Homo sapiens: one gene and its partner. The protein of the gene in region 1 interacts with the protein of each later gene in a biochemical or structural test. Each region holds a gene or a part of one and is shown on either strand. Other genes may lie near its edges.

The links.
Region 2: of the proteins of NSMCE2 (region 1) and TSNAX, one has a biochemical effect on the other in vitro, tested with the Homo sapiens proteins (one study listed by BioGRID).

What each region holds. Positions count from the first base shown.
Region 1 is NC_000008.11:125,364,240-125,367,620, forward strand, and holds the end of NSMCE2 (E3 SUMO-protein ligase NSE2), read left to right. Parts: intron 1-2,528; coding exon 2,529-2,646; 3' UTR 2,647-2,881; downstream 2,882-3,381. UniProt on the Homo sapiens protein: E3 SUMO-protein ligase component of the SMC5-SMC6 complex, a complex involved in DNA double-strand break repair by homologous recombination. Is not be required for the stability of the complex.
Region 2 is NC_000001.11:231,559,669-231,563,168, reverse strand, and holds part of TSNAX (translin-associated protein X), read right to left. Parts: intron 2,042-3,500; coding exon 1,914-2,041; intron 1-1,913.

The DNA of each region.
Region 1 (3,381 bases):
GGCCATATTTTAATATTTTAAAAATAAATACTGTTATTAAGCATATTATATTTCATTGATTAATACCCCTCTAATGTAAAAACTCCTTGATCCACAGATCAGGGCCAAGAAATACTTTCTTTCATGTTGGACTGTTGGGCTTCCTACCACTAGACAAATTGGAGCTCCCATGACCAACTTTCTTTCCTTCTGGTTTGCATCTTTACTGTGGTTTGCACATTTGTTGTTTTTGGTCTTAATATCCTGTGCTTTATGGAGAGCTGTCTCAGATCACTGGGCCAGAGCTCTGTGTGGGCAGGAACCATGTATTTGTATTTCACAGTTGCATGCTTAGAACCTAGCATAGGGCTGATCCCTAGAAGAGTCAATTAATGCATGAATGGGTGCATGCCTGTGTGGGATATATGCAAGATAGAAATAGATCCAGAACTTTAAAACTTCTTGGAAGAATGATGATGAGGGAACACATGATAGTCACAGGGGATCTGGAAGGGAATTAACATTATTGAGCACAGAGGATCTGGGAGGGAATTAACAGTATTGACTGTCACCTTGGGAAATAAGGGTTCTCTCCCCATTTTAACTCAGAGGCAAGGGAGGCTCAAGAGGGTTATTGTGAATTGCCTGTGGTCTCATAACTAGCAAGTAGGTGGTAGAGAGAAAATTCAGACCTAGGTTAGCTTGACTCCAAACATTGGGCCTCTAATCTACCAAAATTTGGTTCACTTTGAGAACCAGATTCTTTGAGAAGAAATAGGTGGTTTCATCCAGCCCACTGCCCTCAGAGAAGACCACATCGAAGCAGAGCCGTGGCTTGTTTCCACCCCTTTGTGGGTGACTCACTGATGTCTTTAGCTGCAGCCTTTCCACCGAGTCCCAGTGGCCCACTCAGTCTCTCTTCTAGGAGGGCTACTGGGCATCCATTCCAGAGGAAACAGATACCAACCAGGACTGTGGTTCTGTGCTGCAGCCTGTTTTGCCCCATCGTTTCCCACTGTGATGAAGGGCACTACCAGTCACTGATCTACCCAGATGAAGCTCGCTTCTTCCCTTTCGCTTATGCTCCACAGCCACTCCATCGGCAAGTCCTATAGGTTCTATGGTCAAGCATGTCCTGAAGCTGATCGCCATACCACCCTCAGCCGAGCTGCCCTCACCTCTCTCCTGCACCCTGCAGGATCCCCCATGCTATTTTCCCTGCCCTTCTCTTACCTCCCTGTTTTGTATTCTCCATAAGCAGCCAGAGTAACATTTTCCAGATGTAAACCAAACACACTCCTCACCCATCTCAAAACCTTCCAGTGTTTTGTCTTCATATTTAAAATAAAATCCAAGTCCAGGCACGGTGGCTCATGCCTGTAATCCCAGCACTTTGGGAGGCCGAGGCAGGTGGATCACTTGAGGTCAGGAGTTCGAGACCAGCCTGGCCAACATGGTGAAACCCCATCTCTACTAAAAATACACAAAATTAGCCAGGCATGGTGGCAGGCGCCTGTAATCCCAGCTACTCAGGAGGCTGATGCAGGAGAATTGCTTGAACCCAGGAGGCGGAAGTTGCAGTGAGCTGAGATCACGCCACTGCACCCCAGCCTGGGTGAAAGAGTGAGACTCCATCTCAAAATAAATAAATTAATTAAATTAAATAAACTCCAAAGCCCCATTGGCGCACTGACCTCACTTCCAACTGCTCTCCCTCTTGCCTGGGTCGCTGCAGCCACATAGAGCTTGCTGTCACTCCAGGGCACCAAGCTGGAACGTCCTCAGCACTGCACTTGCTACTGCCTCAGCCCAGACCACATGCAGACTTGTTCCCACGCTTCATTCTGGGTCCTGCCCTAGATAAGATGTGTTCGGTGAGGCATGCCCTGAGTCCAGCCAGTGAAGCTGTGGCCCCAGCACTCTCTCTCCCTGACCCTGCTTTGTTGCCCTCATAGCCCATAAGGTGACCTGAACTTGCAGCAAGCATTTATTTGGTTCCCTAGTGGTTGCCTGTCTTCCTCATTAGAAAGATAGCTCATAGGCTGGGCGCGGTGGCTCACGCCGGTAATCCCAGCACTTTGGGAGGCCGAGGCGGGCGGATCACGAGGTCAGGAGATCGAGACCATCCTGGCTAACACGGTGAAACCCTGACTCTATTAAAAATACCAAAAATTAGCCGGGCGTGGTGGTGGGTGCCTGTAGTCCCAGCTACTCGGGAGGCTGAGGCAGGAGAATGGTGTGAACCCGGGAGGCGGAGCTTGCAGTGAGCCAGGATCGTGCCACTGCACTCCAGACTCCGTCTCAGAAAAAAAAAAGAAAGTTAGCTCATGATAAGGCAGGCACTACTCACATATCGCTTGTGTCCCCAGCACCCAGACAGGGCCTGGCTCAGGTAGGGACTCAGTGAATAAATGAATGAGCACAGCTTGGTCCTGATTTTGACACTTTTCCTTTTTCAGTAAAATGCCTTACTTAAACACTTGAGTATAAAAGAAGTTTCTGCTTAAGGCAGTAAAGGGGACTGACTTGATGTTCTTTCTTTCTCACAGTTGCCCTCAAATTGGCTGTAGCCACACGGATATAAGAAAGTCAGATCTTATCCAGGATGAAGCACTTAGAAGGGCAATTGAGAACCATAACAAGAAAAGACATCGTCATTCCGAGTAGGAAAAGCCACCTGCCTGCAGGGACACCAGCAGCCTACCTCCTACCCCAGCTGTCTGTTGAGAGCAGTGCTGACCCCAGCAGTTAGGGACTGGCTGCATAGCATACTTGTTGGGGGTAAAACTTGTTGCTTTTATGTGTGCTTGAAAACATTTTTCAAAGTTACACAACAGAAATGCAATCATATTGTTTATTTTTAAGTGTTCTATAATGTTAAATAAAACTTTGATCATCTGCAGTGTCCTCCCTGCATGCCTCCTGATGTATGGATTGTTCCAGAGGTGCAGGCTTTTCCATTTCAAGGACATCAGACTGATTTTTATAATAGTTTTGACTAAAGAATGTCTTTCAGCCAGGTGCAGTGGCTCATGCCTGTAATCCCAGCACTTTGGGAAGCCGACGTGGGCAGATCACTTGAGGTCAGGAGTTCAAGACCAGCCGGGGCAACATGGTGAAACTCCGTCTCTACCAAAAATCCAGAAATTATCCAGGTGTGGTGGTGCGCACCTGTAATCCTAGCTACTCGGGAGGCTGAGGCAGGAGAATCACTTGAACCCAGGAGGCAGAGGTTGCAGTGAGCCGAGATCGCACCACTGCACTCCAGCCTGGGCGACAGAGCAAGCCTCTAAAAAAAAAAAAAAAAAAAAAAAAAAAAAAAAAAAAAAGAATGTCTTTCAAGTGATATTTGAAATTGAAACATATAAAAACACCCCTATTGGGAGGCATTTTCTATGAGTA
Region 2 (3,500 bases), on another chromosome or scaffold:
GAATTGTGCATTTGAGGAACTAATGAGATAATTCTTTTGAGTAAAGTTTAAAGGAAGTTACATAAATATAAGCTGAGACAAGGGAGACAGCTTTATTAAGATCACTCTTTGCTATGTATCTAATACTTGAATCCTAGCACTGTTTGGACTCTGCAGAGACCATTTGGTGCAACGTCCTCATCATTTAGCATGAGAAATGAGGTCCGAGAAACATCACAGGTAATATGACGTTGAGCTATGGGAATATGATAGCTAGTTAGTGGCACTAATGTTTCCATTCTATTTTTCTGCATGTTTGAAATTTTTCACAAAACTTTTTAAAATAAAAATTAAATAGTTTTGACAATATTCTCAACAGGCAAGTCAGAGCAAAATACCTTTCCCAATCAAATTCCCAGAAATTTCAGCACCAAGCATCTTTAGCACTAAAACTTATTTATGAACATAGTCTTATACAATTTGAAACATGTATATGAATATTATAGCCCCATAATCTTAAAATAATCTGGTACCTAAGTCCTGAAAACAGTACTTTGACTCTCAATTTTCTGGCCTTTTCCCCAATATTTTCATTTTGATACACAGAGAACTTTAAAGGAAAGTGTGGTAACTTCCCTAATATCACGTGAGAAGCAGGGTCAAATAGACCTACTTTACTTCTTTGTGTAATTCAGTCTACACTATATGAATAAAAAATATGAAGAAATTTTACTTCTCAAAATAAATTTCCTCCTTAATACACTTCATATAACTTAAAGTTAATACATGGCTTCCTTAAAGTAAGTTATACCTGTCATGCCAAATTAGTCTCATTTGTATTAATATTTTAGTTGATATTCAAGAAAATATTATTTCTACAGTGTCTTCCATCTCCTGCCTACCTATCCTTAATATATGGTGTTTTTAAAAATAATTTTTAAAAGAAAAAATAAAGAAAATTTTTAAAATAATTAAATATTTAATATTTAGTAAATTAAATTAATAATTTAATAATTTAATATTTAAACAATTATTTAAATAATATAAATTATTTTAAAATATTTAATTTTAAGTGTACTGGTATCTCAGAAAGTATCAAATAGTCAATACAGCTTACCTTACTGCCTGTTATATCTTGAAACCCAGAAGGAAAAAAATAGTATTTGTTTAAAAGTCAAACTGCAAAGTTTTTCTTAATTCAGAAAAGCTACATAAATTTCAGATATAAGCATTATGAATTGAGTAAATGATTAACAGCTCTCACTATATAAAAACTACTTTATAATGGCAAACTACTGAGCACTTCCGTGTCAGGTGCTGTATATAATGTATATTACGTGTCAGGTGCTGCTGTATATTGCCTAATTAATAACCTTTAAGTCAAATCCTTTAAAACAACCCTTTGAGGTAGGTACCTGATGCAAGGGATCCCTGTAGCACACTGTGAGAAGCGCTGGCAGAGTGGACAAGGGCACAGGCTTGGATTCAAAATACCTAACTTCAAATCTTAGCTCTGCCACACTTTTTAGTTGTGGCTTCTGGCAAGTTACTTAACCTCTCTAAAAGTCTGTTTCTTTCTCTGTAAAATGAGAGTAATAATGCTTACCACATATGGTTAATAAAAGGATTAAATAAGACAGTGCTTACAAAGGGCAAGTGAAAAATAGAGAGTAAAACCAAAAGAGGACTTACAGTAAGCACTCCATAATGCTTTAGGTAAAGAGCATTACTTTCCCAATATGCCCAGAGTTGTTCTTGTTCTATCCACTAACTGAAATATTTAAAAAGACCATTTCCTAGTTGAGACTCTACAAAACCATACTTTAGAAAGAACATTCCCATCTCAATCTTAGCATAAGCCAGTAAATCTACTAGAATCGTCATACTGTTACATAAATTATATAACAAATGTGAAATAAATTTTAAATTCTCACAGTTTTATTTTCTTTCCCATTGTCTTCAGTCGTAAATATCAATTGTTTATTAATTTCATCCATACTAATTAATGATCGTGTTTTGATGAAGTGTTGAAAAGAGACAGCTTCCACATATTCCTGTAGTCCTGAAAGCGTGACAAAGAAAATTACTAAGAATAAGCACTTAATTAGTAAGAATGTCATAATAAAAAAACTTCATATTGATCATCATCTAGTTCAAAAAAAAGCTTAATGGATGCCTACTACAATGCCAGTACTAGACTAGACACTTAGAATAGAAAGAATGGCCTGGGGACCAGGCGCGGTGGCTCACGCCTGTAATCCCAGCACTTTAAAAGGCCAAGGCGGGTGGATCACTTCAGGTCAGGAGATGGAGACCAGCCTGGCCAACACAGTAAAACCCCAACTCTACTAAAAATACAAAAATTAGCTGGACATGGTGGCGGGCGCCTGTAATCTCTGGGCCACTGTGCCCAGCCAGAAAAAAAATTTTTTTAAGAGTTTAAGTAATTAGGATTTAAGAAAAGCTTATTCTGGCCGGGCACGGTGGCTCACGCCTGTAATCCCAGCACTTTGGGAGGCTGAGGTGGGCGGATCACCTGAGGTCAGGAGTTTGAGACCATCCTGGCCAACATGGCGAAACCCCATCTCTACTAAAAATACAAAAAATATTAGCCGGGTGTGGTGGCAGGAGCCCGTAATCCCAGCTACTCGGGAGGCTGAGGCAGGAGAATCGCTTGAACCCAGGAGCCGAAGGTTGCAGTGAGCCAAGACCGCACCATTGCACTCCAGCCTGGGGGACAAGAGCGAGACTTCGTCTCAAAAAAAAAAAAAGGGGGGGGGGGGAGAAAAGAAAAGCCTATTCCATAATTTTGATAGGCTTTAATAAAAATTATATAAATTAATTTGTTTTATTTTGCTGGGTAACGAAGCAATGATTCAAACAAATGAGACATAAAATTAAGAATCATTTGGGCCGTTCACGATGGCTCACGCCTGTAATCCCAGCACTTTGGGAGGCCCAGGCGGGTGGATCACGAGGTCAGGAGATCCAGACCATCCTGGCTAACATGGTGAAACCACATTTCTACTAAAAATAAAAAAACTTAGCCGGGCGTGGTGGCGGGCGCCTGTAGTCCCAGCTACACAGGAGGCTGAGGCAGGAGAATGGCGTGAACCCGGGAAGCAGAGCTTGCAGTGAGCCAAGATCATGCCACTGCACTGCGGCCTAGGCGGCAGAGCGAGACTCGTCGCAAAAAAAAAAAAATAATAATAATAATAATAATAATTTGGATCTTTCTTAAAGTTTTAATAGGCAAAATCACTTTTAACTAATGTAGGTAAGTGTCAAAATACCGTTTATCTTTTCATAGTTCAAAATGGATCTAAGACTAGATAACTCCTTTCTGCTTTGGTAGTTTAAGAAAAAAAAAAGAGAGCTATGCAATACAATTTTGTACAAGACAGAAACAACCCTTGAATTGAAGAGTAAATTTTGGTAAAGATCAAAATGTAACTTAAATACTTTTAAAAATGTTTATATAAATGTAAAGGGCACAAGTGCAATTTTGTTACATGTCTACA